Homo sapiens: one gene and its partners. The protein of the gene in region 1 purifies or fractionates together with the protein of each later gene. This does not show direct contact. Each region holds a gene or a part of one and is shown in the gene's direction. Other genes may lie near its edges.

Evidence for each region.
Region 2: the proteins of MAP3K21 (region 1) and FAM53C purify together in Homo sapiens (affinity purification with mass spectrometry, with the first as the bait; one large-scale study listed by BioGRID). This does not show direct contact.
Region 3: the proteins of MAP3K21 (region 1) and NADK purify together in Homo sapiens (affinity purification with mass spectrometry, with the first as the bait; one large-scale study listed by BioGRID). This does not show direct contact.
Region 4: the proteins of MAP3K21 (region 1) and MAST3 purify together in Homo sapiens (affinity purification with mass spectrometry, with the first as the bait; one large-scale study listed by BioGRID). This does not show direct contact.
Region 5: the proteins of MAP3K21 (region 1) and DCLK1 purify together in Homo sapiens (affinity purification with mass spectrometry, with the first as the bait; one large-scale study listed by BioGRID). This does not show direct contact.
Region 6: the proteins of MAP3K21 (region 1) and TESK2 purify together in Homo sapiens (affinity purification with mass spectrometry, with the first as the bait; one large-scale study listed by BioGRID). This does not show direct contact.
Region 7: the proteins of MAP3K21 (region 1) and RALGPS2 purify together in Homo sapiens (affinity purification with mass spectrometry, with the first as the bait; one large-scale study listed by BioGRID). This does not show direct contact.

Annotation. Positions count from the first base shown.
Region 1 is NC_000001.11:233,334,224-233,337,723, forward strand, and holds part of MAP3K21 (mitogen-activated protein kinase kinase kinase 21), read left to right. Parts: intron 1-3,500. UniProt on the Homo sapiens protein: Negative regulator of TLR4 signaling. Does not activate JNK1/MAPK8 pathway, p38/MAPK14, nor ERK2/MAPK1 pathways.
Region 2 is NC_000005.10:138,336,793-138,341,065, forward strand, and holds the start of FAM53C (protein FAM53C), read left to right. Parts: upstream 1-1,473; 5' UTR 1,474-1,515; exon of another isoform or gene 1,516-1,563; intron 1,564-4,273. Other genes in the region: CDC25C (M-phase inducer phosphatase 3), read right to left, coding at 1,164-1,363.
Region 3 is NC_000001.11:1,771,971-1,775,470, reverse strand, and holds part of NADK (NAD kinase), read left to right. Parts: intron 1-3,500.
Region 4 is NC_000019.10:18,104,278-18,107,777, forward strand, and holds part of MAST3 (microtubule-associated serine/threonine-protein kinase 3), read left to right. Parts: intron 1-3,309; coding exon 3,310-3,341; intron 3,342-3,500.
Region 5 is NC_000013.11:35,806,383-35,809,882, reverse strand, and holds part of DCLK1 (serine/threonine-protein kinase DCLK1), read left to right. Parts: intron 1-787; coding exon 788-865; intron 866-1,562; coding exon 1,563-1,659; intron 1,660-3,500.
Region 6 is NC_000001.11:45,488,364-45,492,572, reverse strand, and holds the start of TESK2 (dual specificity testis-specific protein kinase 2), read left to right. Parts: upstream 1-1,409; 5' UTR 1,410-1,721; intron 1,722-4,209. UniProt on the Homo sapiens protein: Dual specificity protein kinase activity catalyzing autophosphorylation and phosphorylation of exogenous substrates on both serine/threonine and tyrosine residues. Phosphorylates cofilin at 'Ser-3'. May play an important role in spermatogenesis.
Region 7 is NC_000001.11:178,889,244-178,892,743, forward strand, and holds part of RALGPS2 (ras-specific guanine nucleotide-releasing factor RalGPS2), read left to right. Parts: intron 1-398; coding exon 399-453; intron 454-2,986; coding exon 2,987-3,064; intron 3,065-3,500. UniProt on the Homo sapiens protein: Guanine nucleotide exchange factor for the small GTPase RALA. May be involved in cytoskeletal organization. May also be involved in the stimulation of transcription in a Ras-independent fashion.

The DNA of each region.
Region 1 (3,500 bases):
ACTCCTGGAGTCAAGCCATCATCTTTCCTCCTCAGCCTCCCAAAGTGCTGGGATTACATGTAAGAGACACCACCTCTGGCTCTATCTAGCATTGCCTTTAAAGTCAGTCAGATCTGGATTTGAATATCAGTGTCCTCATTTACTAGCTGTGTGACCTTGAGCAAGTTATATAACTTCATTGAGACTGATTGTCTTGATTTCTGATACTGTATTCGTTTCTTGGGAGATCTGTCAGAAGTCCTGTAGGGAAAATCTGTTTAATGTTTCTTAACCCATTAAAGCCAATTAGGTAAATACTGGCATAAAAACATATGGCTTTTTCAGGGAACAATGAGTAGTTAGGTGTAACTAGAATGAAAAGTGGAGAAAGGGTTTTTTTGGGGGGGAAGGAAACAGGCATTTCGCATGTGGTCAGGCAGTGAGTGCCATGGATGCCATACTAAGATGTGTGGACTATTTAAGAGGCAAGGGAGAGCCATTGATGGTTATTGAGGAGTAGTGTAGTATGATCTGCTGCAAGAAAACACATCTACAGAGAGAGAAACATAAGCTTGCGGTCATTGCTTTATGACTGTACTATCATAGATTGTCAGAATGGCAATAATAAAAACTAAAATAACTTACTTAGACATTGGTTTGACCACATTGTTTATCATTTACAATTCAAGCCTAGTTTTTAGCATCACAATTTGTTTACTGAATTAATTTAGACTACATTTTCTCTCTGATTTCTTTCTTTCTTTTTTTTTTTTATTATACTTTAAGTTCTAGGGTACATGTGCACAATGTGCAGGTTTGTTACATTTCTAACTACTTCCAAAATTGGAAAATATTCTCTAGCTTTACCGTGTCAGGCTGATGATCTTAACTCCAAATGTTAATGACTGTCCCCAAACTCTCTGAGGCTCCCCAAACCCTCTGAGGCAATCCAGGGCTCCCGAAAAATAGAAGCACCCCAATGAAGGAATTTTAATGGGCAGAGGGTTTTGTGGGGGACCTGGGAGAGCTGTGATGGCTTTATTTTGGAGCCTGAAACTTAAATTTGTACAGTTGACCCCTTGGCAGTGTGAATTTAGTTTTTAAAATTCATCTTCTCCAAATATTGCTTCACGTTGAGTGCTTTTAACTAAATAATAGTATTAATAATTGCAAAACCACGATTACTTGTACACCAACCTAATAGTAACAAGATGAGTTTTTAACATTTATTTAGGGCATATTAGATGCCGAGCACTACTCACAATTTATCCTCATTTATTTGTCACTACAACCTTTTGAGGTGGCGCTCTAATTATCCCCAATTTACAGGTAAAAAAAAAACTGAACTCAATGATTAACTGACTTGATCAAAGTCATTCAACCCATCAGAGGGGAGTGCTAAGAATTAAATCTGGGACCTCTGATCCTGGAACTTGTGTTTTATTGTCTCCGTATATTGCCTGGATTAACAGTTCTCAAATATTTGCTTTCAGGACTCCCAAAGAGCTTTGGTTTATAGCAATTAATATTTATCATATTAGAAATTTAAAATGATACATTTTAAAAATGTTTAATAATATGAATATAACAATAGACCCCATTACATCTTAACGTAGCATTTGTAATGGGAAAACCCCCATATTTTCCCAAACAAATTTAATGAGGATGGTGGCATTTATTTGCACTTGTAGAGTTCACTTTAATGCCAGACTTTGGGAGAAGACAGATGGATGTTCATATCTGCTTCTGCATTCACACTGTCACCATCTTAGGGAACCCCAGGGATCCCTAGACTATACTTTGAGAACCTCTAGGCTAAATGATTAGTTCTGTTGATCCAGAATGACACTCTTTAGCAGTAGTTCCCACACCTATTGTGGCGTCAGAATCTCTCTGAGAACTTTTTAAAAATAACATGTTCTGCCTCATTTTTGGATATTCTGCTTCAGTGAACCTTAGGAATAAGCGATGCATTTTTTCCCTAATATTTTATTTGGAAAATCTTGGAATATATAGAACTGACATAGTTTTAAGTGAAAATTAAAATTTTACTTAAGGCTGCGTATGGTGGCTCACACCTGTAATTCCAGTACTTTGGGAGGCTGAGGTGGGTGGATCACTTGAGGTCAGGAGTTCAAGATCAGCCTGGCCAACATGGTGAAACCCTGTCTCTACTAAAAATACAGAAATTAGCCGGACGTGGTGGTGGGTGCCTGTAATCTCAGCTACTTGGGAGGCTGAGGCAGGAGAATTGCTTGAATCAAGGAGGTGGAGGTTGTAGTGAGCTGAAATTGTGCCACTGCACTCCAGCCTGGGTAACAGAGCCAGATGCCGTCAAATAAATAAATAAATAAATAAAATAAAATAAAATAAAAAAATCCCTTAAAATTATTCACTTACAAAAATTATTTCACTTATAATCCCACTGCCTAGATTCTACCATTAACATTTCACTAATGTGCTTTAACATAGATTTAACCCATATGCATTCATTAGTCTATCTTACTTTATGAGGAAACAATAATTTTTCTTTGAAGATTCCAGATGATTCAGCAAATATAGATATACAGCAAAGTTTGAAAGCTACAGTTCTGAGGACCAGATTTATGGATTCCTTCTTATATGTTATCTGGGTTGATATAGAAATTCTTCCATGGCTACAGACTATATCCAAATCAAGTAACTGTCTGCTGATAAATGTATGGTAAGTCATAGCAGGAGCCAGGTGACAGTATGCCTGATGTATTCTGGCGTATGACTCTGGGAAAAGGAACATCTCAGAGCGTTTGTTCCTTTCACATTGGAGGACAAATGGTGTTATTTGTGGTAGTAGGTTTGAGCTCTGTCTGACTCCACTAGCTTTTTGAATAGGGTGACGTGAGGATTAAGTGAGACAGTGTATGTCTGGGGTCGGCAAATTTCTCCTGTATAGGGCCGGATAGTAAATCTTTTTGGTTTTGCAGCCCATATGGTCTCTGTTTGCAACTATGTAATTCTGCTGTTGTAGCCAAAAAAAATCCTTGACAATATGTAAACAAATGAATGTGGCAGTGTTCCAATAAAACTTTATTTACAAAAGTGGCATTGTGCTGGATTTAGCCTGTGGGCTCTAGTTTGCCAATTCCTCATATATGTCAAAGAATTTAGTAAACTGTAAGACAAAATTTAAATGCAAGCTGTTGACTATATTCATTTTAATATTTTACTTAGAAACACTTCTAAGTGTTTTACATTTAAAATATTTGTGCTTTAAATATTTCCTAATGTTGTGTGTGTGTGAACTCATTGATACCTAAACATTTTCTACAACTCTTTACAGCCTAATAACGTTACTATTTTTATTCTTTCTGCAAAATCAGGTGTCACTTAATCAGGTATTTGTTCATCTTGGTTGGAGGTGAGGGTCTTTTTAATTTGGCTAACTTGGGTGATTCCAGGCAGCCTGCAGTATGAGGAAACAGTTCTGAGCCTTGTTCCCTGCAGGTGTGCTGAGATCTGTACACTTTGGCAGGCCTGCTGGT
Region 2 (4,273 bases), on another chromosome or scaffold:
AATAAGCAGTGCAAGGTAAATCTTTCCACCCCTATTTTCTCAGTTAGTACTGTACCTCATTTTTCCTCTACTCTTTTTCAGTTTGTAGACTTGGTGGCTCCTGCCTCCTCCCCTCCCTGGCTCAGTGAGGACGACCCCCGCCACTGGCTCTACTTTCCAGCTGATCACAGCTATTTACCTGTCCCAGTCTTGAGTAAGGCACAAAATATTTACAGAAAACAGATGTCTTTCAGAGGACTTGCTGCTAAGTGTAATAGTGAAGATTACTTGCATTACTGCTACTTTCCAATCAATTAAAAAAAAGAAATAGAAAACTTTGTATTACAAAGAGATCACAACACGAACGCATTGTTTAAAGCCTCTCCTTTATCCACTTTTTTGCTTGTCTCCCTAAACCATCTGTGATGCTAGCTGAGACTCGAATTTACATAAGAGCCAGAAACCATCAACCCAACCTCTTCACACACTAACGTCTACATTCAATCTCTTTAAAAAAGACTTAAATTTTGGCTCATGTGGGAGGTGGTGGTAGTGGTGGAGACTTAATAAAAGGTGGTTTTGTCTTCCTGAAGTGGAAATATAGCGCCGTCAACATCTTTTCCCCATCTGCCTGTTTCCTCCTTCCCTTTCTGTTTAAGGAAAGTCTAACCACCGCACTTCTCCCCACCTCCCCGCACCTCCCCCCAGGCAAACGCAAGCAACTGAACCGCCTATGATGTCATAATCACAATCCCATTACCTCATCCTGCTGGGGGGGAGGGGGCGGAGAGAGAAGAGAGGGAGTGAACAGCCCTGGGCTATCCTGAGCTTTACAAAGTGTTCTGGGTGAGGGCAAATTACAGAACCAAGTGGAAACGTCCCCGCAACCATTATAAGTCCTGGGTTTTTAAGGTTCAGGCCGATCCGGCAGCTGCAAGAGGGGCTCCTGGGACTCCGAGCAGGCCCTAATCCGCGCTTGGACCACACTTCCCAGCAGCCTTCACGCCGCGGACGGGTCCTTTGCTGGGGGAAGGGGGATTCCTTCGAAGAGGTGGTCGTGGAGGGCGGGGCAGCAGAGCAGGTGAGGGGCACTGTGGCTAATTGCGTGACGCGGCCCGAACCGAGTGGGAGGCTGCAGTTGGGCCGTTGGAGGGAGGGAGGGCAGGGGCGATGCCTTTGTTTACCTTCTTCCGACATGGCCTCCCCCGCGGGTTTCAAGATGTGCCTCCAACTGGGGCCGTCCACTTTCTGCGATATTTTGGAGGGGGTGACTCGTTAGTGAGGAAACCACCCCCATCCCTAAATCAAAGCGCCAGGCTCGTTCCCAACAGCGCTGTCCGAGAGACACTTTGAGAGAGACACGACACGGAGCTGCGCCCTCCATGGGTGGCTTGGGGGGATTCTGCGAGCCGGAGCTGTCCCCCTACTCTCCTCAGGGACTCGTTGGTTCGCGCCAGCGCCTTTTAAGGGCACCGTGGGGCGAACCGAGCGCTCAGAGCTGCTCCGGCCGCGGCCCTGGGAGCTGGAGGAACCGCGGTAGGTGGTGGAGGGCAGGTGGCGCTGGGGCCTCGGGGCGGGCACCTCAACCGTCCCTCCCTCCTTCCCTCTTTCCCCTCCCCCAGCCCGACCGCCCGCGCGGCCGGGCCTCGCTGGCCGCCTCTGCGGGGAGAGCACGGGACCCGGTGGGGGAGGGGGTGGCGGAGTGCTAAGTCCCAGACCCTCCCCATCCCCTGCGTCCTGAGTTCGCTTCCCGCGGCCAGATGATGGAACCTAGTGGGAAGAGGCGAACGACAGCCCCCCTGAGCGAGCCCTGGCGCACCCCCCCCCCCGCCCCGGGGACCAGCGGACGCCCCATGCCCCACCCCGCGGGGACAGGCAGGGCAACAGAGGGAGAGGTTGAAGATTGGAGGGGCCTAGCCTTTTGCTTCTTCATGGGGGTGGGGGGAGGGGTGTTCCCCACTTGTCACCCCTTTCCCCACCAGAACCATATGGAAGAAGAGCAGGCAGATCTCCACCTACCTGTTCATGCAGCTCCCTGCCTTCCTCATGTTTTTCTTCAGTCTCCCCAGGAGGTGTGGGGCTGGGACCTGAGGGGAAGGTCCCCAAAGGGTTTGTGACTCTCCTCCCTGTTGGCCTGACCTGATCCTACCTTGTCTTGGTACAGCACAACCTCAGCATCCCTGAAACAGGAGTGTCAGGGGTTACTGCCATCCAATAGGAGATGGGGTGGGGGTCTGATCTTTATTTTTGGGGGCTGCTGGTGGAGGGAAAGCCTGGACTGAGAGTTAGGTCTGGTGGGGTTGCTGAGAGGGCCTAGCGGCCTGCTGCTCTGTGAAGGGCTGAGCCCCGTGCCAGTTGTTAAACTGAGAAGTTTTAACTTGTTTAGTGAATATTCAGGGCTGTCTCTACCCTTCAGATACACAAAATGGAAGGGGAAGGAAGGCGGCAAGAGAGGGCTTCTTACACTTTTTTCAATGCCTGCTTGAGAAAGAGGAGGCCCCTCGCGGAGCTGGTTTGCCTTCTTTTGTGTCCTGGTTTGATTCCTTATGGCTTCCGTTCTGTTCCCCCTCGCAGCCTGGCCTGTTTTAGGAAACTCAGGCTGAGAGTATCAGTTGCGTGGTGGTAGTTGCATTGTTCCAATTACCACTGTGTGTGGCCACATCCCAACAATTAAAATGCAGAAAAACACAAATTCACTGTCTTGACTTGATCCTAGAGGTGGCTGGGAGTTTGCTGTTTGTCCAAATGCCTCATGAAAAGCTGGAGAGTTTGCTTCATTCCCTGCTCCTCATAGCTGGTTAGCCTGAGGCCTGGGGTCTCTAGGGTAAAATCCTGCACTTAGGTTCCCTCTCTGGTTGATCTTTGAGGGCAGCAGAGTTAAGAAACCAAGAGCAGAAGTGATATAAGCTTTAGCTTCTCCCGTAAGAATATAGGGGAAGCAGCTGAAGAGAGCTCCCCGGAAGCTAGAATTTTGTTCAGGGTGGTAATAATTATGCATGAAAATGATAGTTAACTGTAATGATGATTGACTTCTCTTGCACCTTTCTTCCAGAGAACTCCAGGTACATCCAGGTTTATCTCTTTGCTCTTCCTTGTGCCCTCCTTCTAAGGTGTGAGTGGGGTAGAGATAATTCCTCTTTTTTGTAGAGTGATCTGCCCCCAAGGTCACAGAAGGAAGAGCCCTCTTGGGCTTTTCTTAGTGTGCAGGTGAGGGAGGATGGTATTCAGCCAGAGAGATGGACCCTATTGCCTTCTTCATCTTATTGATTTCATTACTTCTGACATTCTGAGGCCTTGAAGATTCACAAACGGGAACGAGAAATGGTAGTCTGTGTGGACTCCTGATTTTTATAGGTCAGATGGTACATTTTGTACATTTTAATATGTTATATTGTTCCTGTGACAGGTTAAGATTATTCTGCCCACTTTACATATGGGTAAACTGAGGCCAAGGAGTATTAAATGATTTGTCAAAACTCTTAGCAAATTGGATTAATAATTAGATTTCTTGATGATTTGTTCTCTTGACTAGCTAATGCTACACACATTCTCTGGTAAGCTGTCAGCTTGCTGCTCATTTCCGGGAATAGATAGAACAAAATCAAGACACTGGCTTAACCTCCCCTTTTCCCTTGAGCAAGGCCCCTCAGGTAATTGTGTGGGCTTGAAGCCTGTTATCTGATACAGTTAGTTTGCTTCTATCAGAAGTTGACCACGAGAAAGAATCTTGGTTAACTGTATCCATGGACTTTGCATCAGATGAGGCTAAAAACTTAGTTGAACAGTCATGGAGTTGTTGTTTACGACGTCTGTAGAGTTGAAATGTATTGGAATTACCCTGACCATTTCTTTATCTTCCCATTTGATAAGAAAACAAACACTGTATCTATTGGAAAACAATAATATATCAGATGTTTAGGCTGTGGGAGGACATAAAATCCTATGTACTCAGGTCTAAAGCAGAAAGTCTTGCCTACAACCACTGTTCTTCCTTGTTCTCTTATTACTATTTCTGTAGTTTAGGAGAAGGGTACCTCTTTTCACTTCTGACTGGAAGATAAAATACTGGGCTGATCTTGATGGAAATAATCATTTGGGCATCCCTCTCTCTCACTTGAGCAGCTGTTTTCTAAGTGGTGCTGGTATTCCAGTTAGAAACAACAGAGCATGAACCAGTTTAAGGGTAGCAAATAAGTTTCAACTTGATTGCCAACTCTATTTTATTTCATATCTGGACTGCCAAGTTCATAATTTCTGAAGCTGTGTTTAGGCTTAGCTGGAAAGAGCTGTGATC
Region 3 (3,500 bases), about 230 Mb from region 1:
ATGCCAGCACTGGGCATTATTTACCGGGGTGAGATGAGATGGGTAATTTAGTGGGCAGTAAGTTTTTTCCCACTCAGGGTTGAGGTTGAATGTTTCCCCATTTCTGTCACTAAATAAATTTTCCTTTTTCATTTAGTCTTGCAACAAATATTGATTGAGTTCTTACATGGGAACGAACTCGTGTATTATGTTTGTATTTGTGTGTGTGTGACTTTTGTTCATGTTCTTTGCACATTTATTTATTGGCATCTTAATGTTTTCCTTGCTACTTTGTATAAGTTCGTTATGAATATTTTCTTATTGTGCTCTAGTATTTTTTTCTAATAAAACTTCCTAATACAGAGGATTTTTTTTTTTTCTTTGAGGCGGAGTCTCACTCTGTCCCCCAGGCTGGAGGGCAGTGGCGTGATCTCAGCTCACTGCAACCTCTGCCGCCTGGGTTCAAGCGATTCTCCTGCCTCGGCCTCCTGAGTAGCTGGGATGACAGGCGCCTGCCACCGCGCCCAGCTAATTTTTTTTGTATTTTTAGTAGAGACGGAGTTTCACCATCTTGGCCAGGCTGGTGTTGAACTCCTGATGTCGTGATCTGCCCGCCTCGGCCTCCCAAAATGCTGGGATTACAGTCGTGAGCCACCATGCCCGCCCTACAAAGGTTTTTTAAAATTAGATTCATGCTATGAGGAATTTGAATGCACTTTGGTGCAGCTAGCATTGTGTGTCCTTTTAAAGCAGTTAATATATCAAACAAATGAATTAAGTGTCAGTCCTGACTCACCCTTGTCAAAAAATACAGTGGTGACCGCGCACGGTGGCCACGCCTGCAATCCCAGCACTGTGGGAGGCCGAGGCACAATGGTGGCCGCGCGCAGTGGCCACGCCCGTAATCCCAGCACTGTGGGAGGCCGAGGCATAATGGTGGCCGTGCGCGGTGGCGACGCCTGCAATCCCAGCACTTTGGGAGGCCAAGGCGGGCGGATCATCTGAGGTTGAGAGTTTGAGACCAGCCTGACCAACATGGAGAAACCCCTCCATGTTGGAGAATTAAGAGGCAGGTCTCCACTAAAAATACAAAATTAGCTGGGCGTGGTGGCGCACACCTGTAGTCCCAGCTACTTGGGAAGCTGAGGCAGGAGAATTGCTTGAACCTGGGAGGCAGAGTTTGCGGTGAGCCGAGATCGCGCCACTGCACTCCAGCCTGGACAACATCAGCGAAGCTCCATCTCAAAAAAACAAAAAATACACTGGTTGTGGTATTGGAGATACTTGTTAAATATATATATATGTGTGTGTGTGTGTGTATATATATACACACACACACATACATAGGTGAAGATAATTGTTTAAAGTTGGTTTTAATATTTAATATTATTTTATAAATTAGTTTACTGCTTAGTCATCAAATTGATCTTCGCAAATAAATATGAACAGAGCTTCTAGGCTGGGTGCAGTGGCTCATGCCTGTAATCCCAATGCTTTGGGAGGTCAACACAGGAGGGCCACCAGAGCCCAGGAGTTCAAGGTCAGCCCGTTCAAGGTAGCGAGACCCTGTCTCTACAAAAAATTTAAAAATTAGCTGGACATAGTGGCTCATGCCTGTAGTCTCAGCTACATGGGAGGATCCCTTAAGCCTGGGAGATTGAGGCTGCAGTAAGCTGTAATTGCACCACTGCACTCCAGCTTAGGTGACAGAGCAAGACCCTACCTCTCAGTCTCTCAATATCTCTATTTCTCTCTCTCTCTCACACACACACACACACACACACACACACACACACACACACACACACACACACAAAATAGAGCTTCTAGGTAATGTAGCAGTAATAATACATTTTTTTTAACATTTTGTGATTTTGATTTGTTTATTTTTTATTAATGTTTTTGTAGAGACGGGGTCTTGCTGTGTTGCCCAGGCTGGTCTCCAATTCCTGGCTTCAGGTGATTCCCCTGCTTCGGCCTCCCAAAGTGCTGGGATTACAAGTGTGAGCCACTGTGTCTGACCTTTATTAACTGTTTATTTTGAAATAATTGGCTGGGTGCGGTGGCTCACACCTGTAATCCCAGCACTTTGGGAGGCCGAGGCGGGCGGATCACCTGAGGTCAGGAGTTTGAGGACCAACCTGGTCAACATGGTGAAACCCCATCTCTACTTAAAATACAAAAATTAGCCGGGTGTGGCGGCGGGCACCTGTAATCCCAGCTACTCAGGAGGCTGAGGCAGGAGAATTGCTTGAACCCTGGAGGCAGATGTTGCAGTGAGCCAAGATTGCGCCATTGCACTCCAACATGGGGGACAAGAGCGAGACTTCGTCTGGGGAAAAAAAAAATAATCATAGACTAATTCATAGGAAGTTGTAAAAATAGTACAGAGAGACCCCTGTGCCCTTCACCAGCTCCCTCTGTGTTAACATCTTTTTTTTTTTTTTTTTGAGATGGAGTTTGGCTCTTGTTGCCCAGGCTGGAGTGCAATGGCGTGATCTCAGCTCACCGCAACCTCCCCCTCCCAGGTTCAAGTGATTCTCCTGCCTCAGCCTCCCGAGTGGCTGGGATTACAGGCATGCGCCACCACGCCGGGCTGATTTTTTGTATTTTTAGTAGAAACGCGGTTTCTGCATGTTGGTCAGGCTGGTCTCAAACTCCTGACCTCAGGTGATCCGCCCGCCTTGGCCTCCGAAAGTGCTGGGATTACAGGCATGAGCCACCATGCCCGGCCCTTGTGTTAACATCTTACACCTCCATACACCTCCATAGTACAATATCAAAACCAGGGAATTGAAATACTGCTAACTAAACTATAGACCTTATTCAGGTTTCACCAGTTTTACATGTGTGTATGGCTCTATGCAGTGTTACCTCTTAAATTAATTATATAACCACTAGCAAGACACAGAACTGGTCTTGAACTCCTGGACTCAAGCGATCCTCCCGCCTCGGCCTCCCAAAGTGCTGGGATTACAGGCACAAGCCACCACACCCAACTGTATTTTAATTTTCTTAACAGTGTTTTGGCTAGGCACAGTGGCTCATGCCTGTAATCCAAGCACATTATGATGCTGAGGCAGAGAGATTGCTTGAGCCCAGGAGTTCGAGGTCAGCCTGGGCAACATGGCAAAACCTCATCTCTACAAAAAAATACAAAAATTAGTCAGGCATGGTGGTGCATGCTTGTAGTCCCTGGTACTCAGGAGGCTGAGGTGGGAAGATTGTCTGAGCACAGTAGGTAGAGGCTACAGTGAACCATGATTACATCACTGTACTCCAGCCTGGGGACAGAGTAAGACCCTGCCTAAAACAGGAAAAAAAAAAAAAATTCAGGGTTCCATTAAGTATAAAAGATTTTAAACACCACTAAGACTTTTTCCAGCTGGGTGAGGTGGCTCACGCCTGTAATCCCAACACTTTGGAAGGCCAAGGTGGGAGGATCACTTGAGACCAGGAGTTTGAAACCAGCCTGTGCAACATAGGGAGACCCCATCTCCACCAAAAAAAAAAAAAAATTT
Region 4 (3,500 bases), on another chromosome or scaffold:
ATGGTTCCATCACCATGACTGCTTGAACTAAACGCCGTGAGTTGTCTGTCCTCAGACATATTCAAGCAGTCAGAGAGACCTTCGAGGGGTAGATTATTCTCCTCCCATCGTGACAGCTTGGTTTTCTGAGCGCAGAGCAGCTGAAGTCAGGCCTGGGGTAACGCCACACCCCCGCGACCCTTCCCCGCCTCTCCCGGGAGACCTTGCCCTCCCAGCTGGGTCATCCGGCAGCCCAGCAGCTTCCGGCCCCCTCCAATTGGCTGTAGGGGCCGATGGCGTCACTGGTTGCTATGGCGAACACCCAGATCACGACGTGGGCAGCCTGGAGCCCACCAAAGTAAAAATAGTCGTGTGTCCCCAACGTGGCCGCCCTGATGTGTGTGGAGGGAGGGTGTCCTGAGACCCAGTTTCCTGCCTCTCACTCCACTAAGAGACGTGGGCAGCCGGCTTTCCTCTGCACCTAAGTTTCCCTGCCAGTAAAACAGCCCCTGCCCGCGGTTCGTAGGAGGTGGCTCAGTAAATGCAAGGACATTTACCAGGTATTATGACAGCTTCCATGGTCCCTTGCTGAGCTCAACAATAGTACAACAGCACACAACAGCAGCAATAGTAATGGCTGATCATGATTAACCCAGAACCCTCCTCACGTCATCTCCAGTTACAGATGGGGAAACTGAGGCACGGGGCATACAAATAATTTGCATGGCCAGGAAGAAACAGAGAATTGAACTGGACCCAGGTCTGGGTGTCCCCAGATTCTAAACTTGTGCCACATGGCATTTTGAGAATTTAATAAACCCTCGTGATTGACCGGGTGCGATGGCTTACACTGTAATCCCAGCCCTTTGGGAGGCTAAGGTGGATGGATCACTTGAGGTCAGGAGTTCGAGACCAGCCTGGGCAACATAGTGAAACCTCGTCTCTGCTAAATATACAAAAATTAGCCAGGCATGCTGGCACACACCTGTAACCCCAGTTACTTGGGAGGCTGAGTCAGGAGAATCGCTTGAACCCGAGAGGCAGAGGTTTCAGTGAGCCAAGACTGCACCACTGCACTCCAGCCTGGCGATACAGTGAGACTCCATCTAAACAAACAAACAAACAAACAAAAAACTGGTTTTTTGGCCAGGCATGGTGGCTTATGCCTGTAATCCCAGCATTTTGTAATCCCGGCATTTTGGGAGGCCAAAGTGGGTGGATCATCTGAGGTCAGGAGTTCAAGACTAGCCTGGGTAACATGGCAAAACCCTGTCTCTTCTAAAAAAAAAAAAAAAAGTCCCAGCTACTCTGGAGGTTGAGGCAGGAGAATCGCTTGAACCTGGGAGACAGAGGTTGCAGCGAGCCGAGATTGTGTCATTGCACTCCAGCCTGGGCAACAAGAGCAAAAGTCTGTCTCAAAAAAACAAAAACAACAACAAAAAAAAACCCTCTTGGGCAGCCCATGTCTGAGGATGGACTGTGAGGTCACAGTGGAACACAAGCTCACGGCTTTCTATCCTTCATGCGGTGAGGGCACCCAGAGTTGGTGCAGGTCAGTTTGCTGAGCTCTAAAAGGGTCTTCAAAAGGGAGTCACCCGTCAGCCGTCCTCCCCACGCCCCCACTGGTACCCAGGGCCCAAACCTGCATAGGCTTTGCAGCGAGTGAGGAGAGAATGGCGTTCAGACCTAGACCCAGGAGGAGAGGGACATCTGAGATGGGACAGGGAGAGGACAACTCAGGAATCTCTGTTTTCTCAACAGATTATTAGTTTTTAGCCACTACTGACATACTTCTTCATAAATACAACTAATTGGTAATTTTAAATAAAATTATTATTAATTTTTTTTAGACTTAGAGTCTTGCTCTGTCACCCAGACTAGAGTGCAATGGTATTATCATAGTTCACTGCAACCTCCAACTCCTGGGGTCAAGCAATCCTCCCACCTCAGTCTCCTGAGTAGCTGGGATTGCAGGCGTGCAACACCACACCTGGCTAATTTTTTTTTCTTTTTTGAGACGGAATCTCTCATTGTTGCCAGGCTAGAGTGCAATGGCACCATCTCAGCTCACTGCAAGCTCTGCCTCCCAGGTTCAAGCGATCCTCCCGAGTAGCTGGGGCTACAGGTGTGCAATACCACGCCCAGCTAATTTTTGTATTTTTAGTAGAGACAGGGTTTCACCATGTTGGCCAGGATGGTCTTGATCTCTTGACCTTGTGATCTGCCCGCCTTGGCCTCCCAAAGTACTGGGATTACAGGCATGAGCCACCGCACTTGGCCCTTCTTATTTATTTATTTATTTATTTATTTATTTATTTATTTATTTATTTTTGAGATGGAGTTTCGCTCTTGTTTCCCAGGCTGGAGTGCAATGGTGTGACCTCGGCTCACTGCAACCTCCGCCTCCCGGGTTCAAGCGATTCTCCTGCCTTAGTCTCCCAAGTAGCTGGAATTACAGGCACCCACCACCATGCCTGGCTAATTTTGTATTTTTAGTAGAGATGGGGTTTCACCATGTTGGCCAGGCTGGTCTTGAACTCCCGACCTCAGGTGATCTGCCCACCTCAGCCTCCCAAAGCTCTGGGATTACAGGTATGAGCCACTGCGCCTGACCGGCCCGGCCTTTTTTTGGAGACAGGGCTCAAGCAATCCTCCCACCTCAGCCCCCCAAGTAGCTAGGAGTACAGGCTTGAGCCACCATGCCCAGCAATTTTTTTTTTTTTTTTTTTTTTTTTTTTTTGTAGAGACGGGGTTTCACTCTGTTGCCCAGGCTAGTTTCAAACTCCTGAACTCAAGTGATCCATCCGCCTTGGCCTCCCAAAGTGCCAGAATTACAGGTGTGAGCCACCGCACCCGGCCTACTCTGGCTAATTTTTTTAAAAAGTTTTGTAGAGATGTAGTCTTGCTATGTTGCCCAATCTGGCTTAAACTTCTGGGCTCAAACAACCCTCCTGCTTTGGTCTCCCAAAGTACTGAGATCACAGGTGTGAGCCACCGTGCCCAGCCTAAAATATTTTTTAATGCAGGTATGGTAGGAGCCGGGTGGGGAATTAGACTGTGAATCTGGAGGGCCTCCAGGAAGAAAGGATGTTGAGTTCAGATCTGGAGTATGAGCTGCAGTTAATTAGGGCCAGAAGGGAGGGAAGGCTGTTCTGAGAGAGCGCACAGATAGCGCAAAGGCCTTGAGGCAGGGCTGAGCCAGTGTGTAGAGTGAGCGGGAAAGATGCATTGGTTGGGGCATGGGATTGGGGATTGTGGGGGTGCATCAACGGCCAGGGGTTCTGAGGGCTAGTCTCTCTGAGAATGATCCCCATTTCTGTCTCATTGCAGAAGGAGCTGAGCCTGCCACGCCGAGGACGTGGGTGAGTTCACCTGGGACTGGCGGGCTGGGTGGGCCCCAGTGGTCTTGGAAGTGGATATTTCAGCAACAGCCACTGAATTGTGAATGTATTTAATAATTACAGCAACACATCTCATGTTCATTCTTGCCCTCGTGTTTGCAAAGTGCTTCACAAGCACCT
Region 5 (3,500 bases), on another chromosome or scaffold:
TTGTACCATAGACCACAAGGGCAGAAAAACCAAATAGATGAGAAGGGAATCCCAATAGGGAAATTCCTGAGGCGAGATGTGAGGGAATGAGGACTTTGCTACTTGGCAAATTTGAATGAGGTGGGAGCCCACATCCATAGCCTTGTCTGACCTCCCTCAGGTGGGGCTGCCTGGGGCACAGACACACTTTCTACTGGGACATGCTCTGCTTGCTGCTGGGAGGAAGTGGTGGGTCTTGAAGACCATATTGGGGACCAGCTCTGACACTAACTGTGTGATCTTAAGCAAAATTACTCACCCATCTGAACCTGTTTTCTCTCTTCTGTACAATAAGCAATACTTGTCTTGTCCAACCTACAGAGTTGCTAGGAAAACAAAGTACGATCATGTATGTCAGTGCTCTATAAATTGGAAAACGTTCTAGAAATAATTATTATTCCTAAAGTGAGGGAGTTTATCTCAAGGGTCCATCCTTATCTCAGAATTGTTATTACTATAATAAACCTTTTTGCTGAAAACCTTCATTTACTGATATTTACAAATAAGTCCAGCAATGCATTCCTTTGATTTTTATTCCTGCACCTTGGTCTTTTTTAAAATTATTATTTTTTAAACTTTTTCTTTGAACTCTGTTTAGGTGGTGGGTTTTAGTTTAGCGTTTGTTGTTGGGATTGTTATTTTGTTTGGTTTTATTTTTGGCTTGGAGGAGGAAAGTCATTGATTTTACCAAGCTGCATAATTTGTCCGAGCCTGACCCTCCTAACTCTAACATCCCTTATTTTTCCAGATACGGCCTCAAGGTGGACATCTGGGCAGCAGGTGTAATCACTTATATCCTGCTGTGTGGTTTCCCTCCATTCCGTGGGTATGGGCAACAATCTTTTATTCAGCGCCGACAAAGCATTTCTCTACTCTCTGAGTGATCCATTAGCCCTTCTTGCACAAAGGAGCCTGCAGCAGGAAAAGAGCACAAGAACTTTACTTGCAATCCCTGTTATTTTTTCCCTGTTATGTCATGCATGCTAATTTATATGCCTTCCATATTTCTTCCCCATATCATTAAAAACTCATTCTTTCTTTTTTTTTTTTTCTTTCTGGTTTTGAGACAGAGTCTCTCTTTTGCTCAGTCTGGAGTGCAGTGGCACAGTCTCAGCTCACTGCAACCTCTGCCTCCCAAGTTCAAGCAGTTCTCCTGCCTCAGCTTCCTGAATAGCTGGGATCACAGGCGTGCGCCGCCACACCAGTTACTTTTTGTATTTTTAGTAGAGATGGGGGTTTCACCATGTTGGCCAAGCTGGTATTGAACTCCTGACTTCAAGTGATCTACCTGCCTCAGTCTCCTGAAATGCTGGGAATACAGGTGTGAGCCGCCGCACCCGGCCCAAAAACTCTTTCTTAATTTACCAAAACAGATCCACATTGACATTTTTCAATCGATTAAAAATACACATTTTTACACATTTATGGGGGGAAAGGAAGGGCTCCAGTGCCTAAGACTGAAAAGATGTACACTGAGTTGATATCTTAGTGCTGTTTTTCCTTGTTGTCGTTCACCTAAACAGAAGTGGTGATGACCAGGAGGTGCTTTTTGATCAGATTTTGATGGGGCAGGTGGACTTTCCTTCTCCATACTGGGATAATGTTTCCGATTCTGCAAAGGTAGGTGTCCAGTGCCTTCCTCTTCCCTATATTCTGTGTGTCTTAACGGAATTATTTTTCCAAATCATTGTGTGCAAAGAAACTAATGACATCATAAGTATGATTTCTGTACACATTTTAGTTGTAATTGCTAGGTTTTCCAAGATTTCACAGTCATCAAGTCATCTGTTCCCAGACATCCCAACAAGTACTTATCAAGTGTCTCCATCTGCTGCCTTCATCTCTCTCAGGTGCCATTCCAGTGACATTGCTATAGCCTCTTGCTGTGCCCCACCCTCGCCAGGCTTGAGCCCAGCTCAGATTTCTATATGGCCTGTGGTTTCACCTCTCTCAGCTCTTGACTTAATGACTTAATTTCCCAGTGAAGCCTTCCCAGACCATCCTGGTTCCAATTGCATCTCTTAAACCTTACCTGGCTTGCTGTATCCTACTTGTCTGTTTTATTTTTCTCCAGAACACTTAACACCTGTGTGTCCATCTGGTGTGCTATCTAACTACCTATCTCTCTACCCAAAAAAAGATAGATATAAATAAGTAGGCATGTCTTCTTTATATAGTTCATTTCCAGACTCTCTCCACTAGAATGCAAATTCTGCGAAGGCAGGGATTTTTATCTATTTTGTCCATTGCTGTACTATCCCTGCCTAAAGTATGACCAGCATACTGGTGCTCAATGTATACTGAATAAATGAACAAGTATATGAATGAATCCATCAATTAATCAGAAGGAAGAAAACTCAACCTCAACGTAGGTTGAAATCATCAAGAAAGACTTTATGGGGAAGCTATGATTTAAGTTGAACCTTGAATAATAGCCAGGATTTAGAGGCAGAGGGGGAGGAAAACACAAGGTTCATTGTTTTTATCCCATGAAACTAAAAGATCAGTCCTTAACATGGATGAAGGTGATGGTTGCACAACAATGTGAATGCACTGAATGTCAGTGAACTGTGCACTTGAAAATGGTTGAAGTGGTAAATTTTATGTATATTTTACCACATTAAATAATATTTATGATAAATCAACTTCTAAGAAGGCTATAAAAATCTTACATTGAGATGTTTGTAGACCTTGAGGAGAAAAAGGAAAACCTTTTCATTGCTCTTTTTAAAATTTATGTCTCCGAGTGCTGACTTAAATGTTTAAAAATTTGAGAAAAATGTTCTCAATAATTATCTTGAGAAATAATTATCTTTTGATTGCTCAATGTTTATGCCTTTGCTTTTGTCATGTCCTGAATGTGAGTTCCCTTTAAAAGCCAACCCCTCAGACATGACCACTTTGTGTAGAAAATGATGCATATTGAGTGCAAGTCTCTCATTTTCTTCAACTGTCCAGGAAGCTGCCAGAAAGGGAGTGTCAGAGAAAGGCGCAGGCTAAAGGAGATGGGACGATACAGCTGCAGGGCCGGGGGCTCTTCAGGAACCTGTCCAGCTCCCCATGCCATCACTGCAGGATCTGAGGGCTCACAGTTACTGACAAATAGGACCATCTCCTACACCTCCATAGCACCTGCAAAGGGCATCACACACAGCAGATACTTTCACGAGTTCTGATCCAAGTTAGAAACTGAATGAAGAAGGCTGAGTGAACTCTCTCCCTCAATGAAATTAAATCACCCCCTTCCCGAGTGGTACTATAAAGCCTGTGTATGTAAGGAACTGGATAATGCATATCTAACCATTTTGTGACATGGGAACTTCTAATCCAGAGTGGACAATTGTATAGCATACTCATCGTTAAGACCCAGGTAGAGCATTCCTGGTCCAAGTCCATTTGAGCTCATGAGGAAGTTCCATTAATTTCAGGATGATGAAATTGTTTACCTCTCAATAGTTCTA
Region 6 (4,209 bases), about 190 Mb from region 1:
ATTTTTCTATTTTTAGTAGAGACGAGGTTTCACCATGTTTGCCAGGATGGTCTCGATCTTCTGACTTCGTGATCCCCCTGCCTCGGCCTCCCAAAGTGGTGGGATTACAGGCGTGATCCACTGCTCCCGGCCCTGGCCATATTTCTTAAACTTTATGGCCACCAGGAATGCATACCACTTATACTCTTCCAGGAGGATGAAAGTCTTAAGATGTCTGAAAAGGGGTCTCTAACCCCTGGGAGTGCTAATACAGTAAGGCCCATACTGCTTGCTCTTGCCCTCCTCCTGTTCTAGTCTCTTCAGTCATGAGATTATGAGCTCCTGATGTCCAGGCACATGCAAAAAGTGAAGAAATATGTGCCTTGAACAGCTGGGCAGAATTCTTAGCTGGGAGCGGTGGCTCACGCCTGTAATCCCGGCACTTTCGTAGGCCAACGTGGGCCGATCACTTGAGTCCAGGAGTTACAGACCAGCCTGGGCAACATGGTAAACCCCGTCTCTACAAAATATACAAAAAATTAGTCAGGCATGCTGGCGTGTGCCTGTAGTCCCAGCTATCCGGGGAGGCTGAGTTGGGAGGATCATCTTAATCCAGGAGTTTGAGGCTGCAAGTGAGCCATGATCGCTCCATTGCACTCCATCATCCTGGGCGACAGAGTGAGACCCTTCTAAAAAAAAAACAACCAACAAAAACAACAAAAAATCCCAACTTATTCCCCACCAGCTTTCTTTCAAAATCTGTTTTCAAGCTAGCTGAAGTGTTACCTCCTCTAAGCTTTCACTTAACCGAATCTCATAGTCATGATTAATTGCTTCCCTAGCATTTTGTTTAGCTCTACTGATTGCTCTTACTATTTCAAGTCGGTATTATTGATATATTTTTTCCTCCTCACTATACTGAAATCCTGCAGGACGCAGCATTCTTACCGCTTTTCCTTACTCAGCTATACCTTGACCAACCCGAAAGCCGCGCCAGTCTAGTCCATTTTCTATTGGCTTTATCAATTACCAATCATTTCTGTGTTTAACATTTTTATTGGTCCATCTTGTGTTTACTGCCCCGCCCTCTAAGAGGCTCCTGGACTTGGGTTTCCCCCAGGTGTATTCCCTCCTCCTCGGTTCCGCCTTTCCCACACACTGCTTCTTCTGTTTTTACCTCGACTTCCTTCCTATTGGTTCCCTTCGTCCTCCGGAGTTGGCACCTACGGCTGTTGATTGGCTTTTCTGGACGCCCATTGTGCCCACCCTCATACCACGTGGCATTCCTAGCGCTAATTGGGCAATTCCACTACCTCGTTTATCAGGAGTTGACGGTTGACTGGCTACTCTGAGGGAGGGCTTGAGGGAGGGGCGTGGCCAGCCGAGACCCCGCCCCCAACCCCCCTGCTGGGCCGGGTAGGCGTTTCAGTCTTTCGCGGCCCGGGAGCTCAGCAGAGCTACCAGCTGCCCTGTTGGCTTCGCTGGTCGGATCGTCCTCCTGGCCCCGCCAAACAGGCGGGGGGAGCGGCCCCGACTGTGGGGCCATGGCAGTAGTCTCCTCGTTCGCCGCCGCCGCTAGCCTAGCTGAGTCGCCGGCTTCTGCGCTAGGGGCTCCCACCGCCTCCGCAGGCTAAGGAGCCGCTGCCACCAACGAGCTGTGAGGGTTACTATGCTCCCTCTTTGCCGCCGTCTCCTCCTCTTGCCCGCGCAGGCACCCCTCTGGCTGCTCAGTCCTGCCTCAGGTAACGTGAAAAGAGGACGGGGGTCACAAACCCGGGCATCCTGCCTGGCCCGCGCGCGCTGCCGCTCCACCTCCTCTGCCCCGGAGCAGAGGCGCCTGCGTCCCTCCGCACCCGACGGGACCCCTCGGCTTCCCAGAGGTCCCCCTCTCAGCGGCGGCGGACGCTCCCTTCCTGGCCGCTTTCCCCTTTCCTTCTCACTTCCCTCAGGCTCCCCGCCACGTCTGCTCCCCCTTAGAACCTGGGAACCCATTAGAAGTTACCTCGCTCGCATTAGGGATCTTTCGTTTTCTCGGAAAACTCTTGTTTCAGAGACTTCCAGCTCCCCACTGAGCGCCTCCCTGCTCGCATACCCGCTCCTGCCTCAGAGATCTGGGTTCCTTCACTTGACTTCCCTCCGATACACTCTTCCCTCGAAAACGTTCACCTCTACCCAGGAAAACAATTCCCTCCCCTCAGACCCTACTGCCTTCCCCCTCTTCTTTCCTCGCTTGTCATCGTCTCCCTTCCTTTCCCCTCTCTGCTTTTTACTCTTCGCTGTGAAGAGTGGACTAAGCCAGTGTTCAGATTTCGCTACAAGCGAAATCCAGGTTTGCGTAATTTAAAAGTCTTTAAATTGTATACCTCTGAGAAGAACTTGCTGAGGAATTTGGACTTCATGCTGCATGCATGGGGAGCCGTTGAAGGTTTTGTAAGCAGGAGCTTGGTATGATTGCATTATCTTTGGTGAAAATATAGAGGAAGGATTGAAAGTGAAGACCGTGGAGGCGGAAAGGCCAGGTAGGCAGAAAACGAGTGTGCTCATCCAGGCGGGAGGGAATGGCCCGAAATTCCAAGAGGTTTCAAAATAAAGTTGAGAAGAATAGTAGAAAGTTTCTGACTTGGCTGATGGTGTGAATCGGTAGTGTTAATTGAAATAGGGAACATAGTCTCTGGTTATACCACCCTCAACGCTCCTGATCTCATCTGAAATAGGGAGCATAAAAAAGCAATTTTGAGAGAAGGTAATAAATTTGGTTTTGAACAAGTTAAGTTTCAGGGTTTGTTTGTTAGTTTTTGTTTTTTTTGACGGAGTCTCATTCTGTCACCCAGGCTGGAGTGCAGTGGCACGATCTCAGCTCACTGCCACCTCCTCCTCCCAGGTACAAGCGATTCTCCTGCCTCAGACTACCGAGTAGCTGGGATTACAGGCATGCGCCACCACGTCCGGCTAATTTTTGTACTTTTAGTAGAGACGGGGTTTCCCCACGTTGGCCAGGCTGGTTTCGAACGTCTGACCTCAGTCAATCCGCCCACCTCGGCCTCCCACAGTGCTGGGATTACAGGCGTGAGCCACTGCTCCCAGCCGAGTTTGAGGTGTTTTGAAATATCACTGTGGGTATCTGGAAATTTGGGTCTGAAAATTGGGAGAAAGCTTGGACCTGGATACATAAATTTGGAGGGTCAAGAGAATATATGGGGGATATTTGTGTGCCTTAGTATGGAATGGTAATACTGAAAGATGAGAAGGGCTGTGGACCAGAAGGAGCATCATTGTTTGAAAGGTAATAGACACTGAAAAAGAGAGATTAAAGGAACGGGACAAGAACTAGAACATAACAGCATTATAATAGGAGCCAAAGAAAGGATTTCAAGAAGGGAGTGGGGGGCGGTGACTATCAATGTCACGTGCTTTCGAGGTCCAGCTGAATGAGAGTTAAGAAGCTTTTTTTTTTTTTTCTTTGGTGTCAGGGTCTCACTCTGTCGCCCAGGCTGGAGTGCAGTGGTGCAGTCTCGGATCCTCCCACCTCAGCCTTCTGAGTAGCTGGGATCACAGGCAGGAGCCACCACACCCAGATAATTTTTTGTATTTTTTGTAGAGACGGGATTTCTCTGCGTTGCCCAGGCTGGTCTCGAACTCCTGAGCTCAAAGCTATCTGCCTTCCCCGGCCTCCCAAAGAGCTGGGGTTACAGGGGTGAGCCATCATGCCTGGCCTGCCCTATATTTAGCAATCAGGAGGTCACTTGTTTCCTCTGAAATGCAGTTTTGGTAGGGTGGGGATGGCAAAGAAGGTAGTAGTGAGATCATGATGGATTGAGGAATAAATGAGGAGAAATGAGTAAAATTATTCTCCAGAGTTTGGTTGTGAAGGAGAGCTGGTTCTAGTGAAACTCATCTTTATTGAGAATATACTATATGCCAGGTACATAAAGATGCTTTATAGATCACAACAGCCTTGTGGTTAACATGTCAGTATCCCTCTTTTACAGTGGAGAGTACTGTGGACAAGGATTTGAGCAGGTATGTCTAGTTCTGAAACCTGTGTTCTTTCCATTATGGCACATGTGTGTTTTTCTTTTCAGTACAGGTGAAACAGTTCTGTAAGTGAGGGGAAGGTTCATCTAGGAAATATGTCAGTCAGGCATTTTGCCCTTTGACACCAAAAGGATAGTAGTGAAAATGGATAATGATGTGGTAGAAGGGAAGGAAAGTGAGGGAGTTTAACAGATG
Region 7 (3,500 bases), about 54 Mb from region 1:
TACAAAGAGAAAGGAGTATGCCATGAATCGTCAAGGATTTTATAATTATATTGGTCCTAAATTATGACAAACCTAATAAGAAATTTTGTGTTATTTTATGTTCTCTAATGGTAGGAAAAATTGTTTATTGACATAATGAATTTCAGCTACAAATAGGCAAGCAAAAATGTTTTATGCTATTTTGTTATTTTAGGTTGTCGTGTCAACTGTATTCCAATATATTGCAAAATAAACCTAACAGCAGTAATATTAGAATAAAGAATTAATATGTGGATATGTTCATCTACAATGCGATTGTCATTTTATGAGCATAGTTAATTAATTTATTTTTACATTGTGAAATGCAAACTAGAGAGGTAATTCTGATGTTTAAAAAATAGGATAACTTTTCATTTTAGGTAGCAGCGATGGTTCTGAACTAAGTGAAGAGACCTCATGGCCTGCTTTTGAAAGGTAAGATAAATTGTCCATTTGAACTACTTGGAGTTTATTTTGTCTGGGTTAAATAATATAATACAAATTTTCAGAGATAATATTTACTACATATCCCTAAGCGATTAAGTTTTCTACTGGTAAAAGAAATTAGAAGTTGATATTTAAGTTTGGATATGTAAGTAATGAGAATGAATGATAGTCTTATCTCTAAATGTTTATTTGGTGGCATGACACATGTATTTGAATTTTAATACATTTACATTTATAACTTAAAAATAATAACCGATCATCGACAAGTAACCTACTTACATATTCAAAAAATTATTTCCTTAAGTTCTGGTTCATTTAAGTAATTTTAAGGCATTTAGTGGAATGGTCAACTTTATTCTCTGCTGCTTTGTCAAGGACAAAATGATTTAATAAATTTTAAATTATACAAGTAAAGCAAGTTAAGGTTAGAATTTAAATGGTCATAAACTCAAAATTTTCAGAGTACACTTTTATACTGAAATACTCTAAGTTGTGCTCCCTTCTCCTTCCTTTGTTGCTTTAAGCTGTTAAATCTGTCATCTGCCTGTAGCAAATATCATACTATATTGAGGTCTAAGTACATATAAGATCTGAAGAATGTGACCAAACAATGCAAATAATTATTTATTAAATGTCCATTAGGATTCTTATGTTTTCACTGACCATTTCAGTTCTGCCATTTCAGACTCATAAGGTATTTGGCTTTTGACCAAAACAATTGCTCCCTTTTTTGTATATGAACTAAGTAACTAAATTTCTGAAAATGCCTATATTCATTACTCAAGCGGGTCATTTAGATTGAATGTTAAATGTCATATTAATACTGAAGTTGAAAATGTGTAATTGCATAACTCCTTATCAGTCACAATTTATAAAACAATTTTAAATTAAATTTTATTTGAAATCATAAATTTCATGCTGTTTAATTGGAAAAATAGATCCTTATTTTTTATGTGACTTCATAAAGATTTCTCACTATTATGTGATTAAGATTTTGTTTATAAGTTCTACATTGCAAAGTACTTTTGATCCTTTCTACTCTAATTATCAGTGTTCCCAACTTTTGTTCTCTTTGTTTTGCGGGATAATAATAAGTAAAAACAAATTATTTTTATTTATTTTTGCATTATTTTTCTTGCAACCTTTACTTCTGATCTGTTCATTTGGGTTTGCCTGAAATGTGAAAAACACAAGAATTGCCTTTGACATGTTGTCTGAATTTGTTCAAATTGTCTTTCCCTCTAGAAAGAACGTAAAACCATGAGAAGTTGATTATAGAGTGTACTGTAATCTTTATATTTAAAAAATATTGATTAACCAAATTGTTTTTTAGATTGCTTGACTTATGACTAACCAGAATGGTGGTGTGTTAAATAATCTGTTCTCATCCCAGCAGGTTACTTATGAAGACAGTATTTAATGATGTTACCTTCACGTCTCAAAACAATTTTTTTGCTTTATAACAGGTGTTTTGCTTTGCAGACATGTGTGGCTAAAAAAAGCTACTTTTCTTATGCCAAGTTTAAAATAGTGGGCTCTTAGAACATTTTGAGAACAGTGAAATGAATGCTGCCCAGCAAGATTCAGACATGAAATAATAGAAAGTGAATAAAGAACTAGGATATAAAGTACTACTCATGGATAGTGAACTTGAAAAATGTACTCTGAATGTTGACATACCATTTTCTGTTCTTATTTTCTAGACAGACATCAAATACATTGTCTTATTTTCTAGACAGAAATCAAATACATTGTTGTCTTTTTTTCTAGACAGACATCAAATACATTGTTTAAGTTGCTAAAATAATGCTTTTCCTTTAAAACATCATTTATCAACAGTGCTTTCGGGTTTTCCTAGGCAAAGAAGTATCAGTATTTTTATGTGTCTGTTTTTATTTTTTTTGTTTTTAACTATTATGTGCCATTTTGGATAAGTATTAACTCATCATTTTTATCATTTATTGGCTTTGTCAGTTAATGTAGAAATAATATAACGCCTATATTACTCAGTTCATTTCTTTTATTTACTATAAAGGATAAAGAGGAAAATAAAGTTTTCCTCATGAGTTTACAAGCCACATTGCTTTTAGGTGTCTTCATAGGGACATATAATAAAAATGAATTACTTATATAAATCCGGGCATCATATTTAAACTAGAATCCAAGAAGTGGTATAGAAACGTAAGAATTTTTGAAGTATTTTTGAGGTTTTTTTTTTATTATTTGGCTATAAATAGCTCTTTAATTCTTTTAGCAGATTTGTGAAAGTGAATGTATATGTAAATATATGGTGTGTACTAAATACCTCTAAGTATTTCTAGAGTCAATAGTAGAAGAAAAAATTTTTTGAAATCTATGCTGCATGCTTTAAAAAAGAAAGAGGAACAATCACATACTATCCTTTTGTAAGATTTAGAAAGCTATATTACAAGAAGAAACTATTATACTGTTCTAGGTATTGATAATGACTGTGTGAATAAAAGTATATGTAATATATACAATTTATAATGGAATCCAACAGGAACAGATTATACCATTCTCTCGGCCCGGTGACAAGAGTGGCACGAAATGGCTATCGAAGTCACATGAAGGCCAGCAGGTACAATTCCCCTGCATTCAGGGGTCACAGAACTCCCTTATGGTGTTGGTGATTGGCTTACATGGGTGTGGTCTGACGTTATTTCTTTTCTTTCTCAACTAATTGATTTAAAAACTAAACAAATTACCTAGAAAAACTTTCTTTCCAAGATCTAATATGAAGATAAATTTCAACTATTCTTTCTGATCCACAGAGCTAATTGCTAAAACTTGCATCTTAATGTTACATATTTTAAAATGCTTCCAAGTTGGTAGCCTTTAAACTGCACCAGTCTTTCTAATGCTGATAGTTTTTGAATGAACAATATAAAAATCTGCTTCTTTATTCATAAGTTGTAATCAAAGCATTTTCTTTGCTAATAAATTTATATTTGATTTGTCTTTTTAAAAAGTTTTTCAGATAAACTACAGGTCCTGAATGTAGACGAGTCTATTTC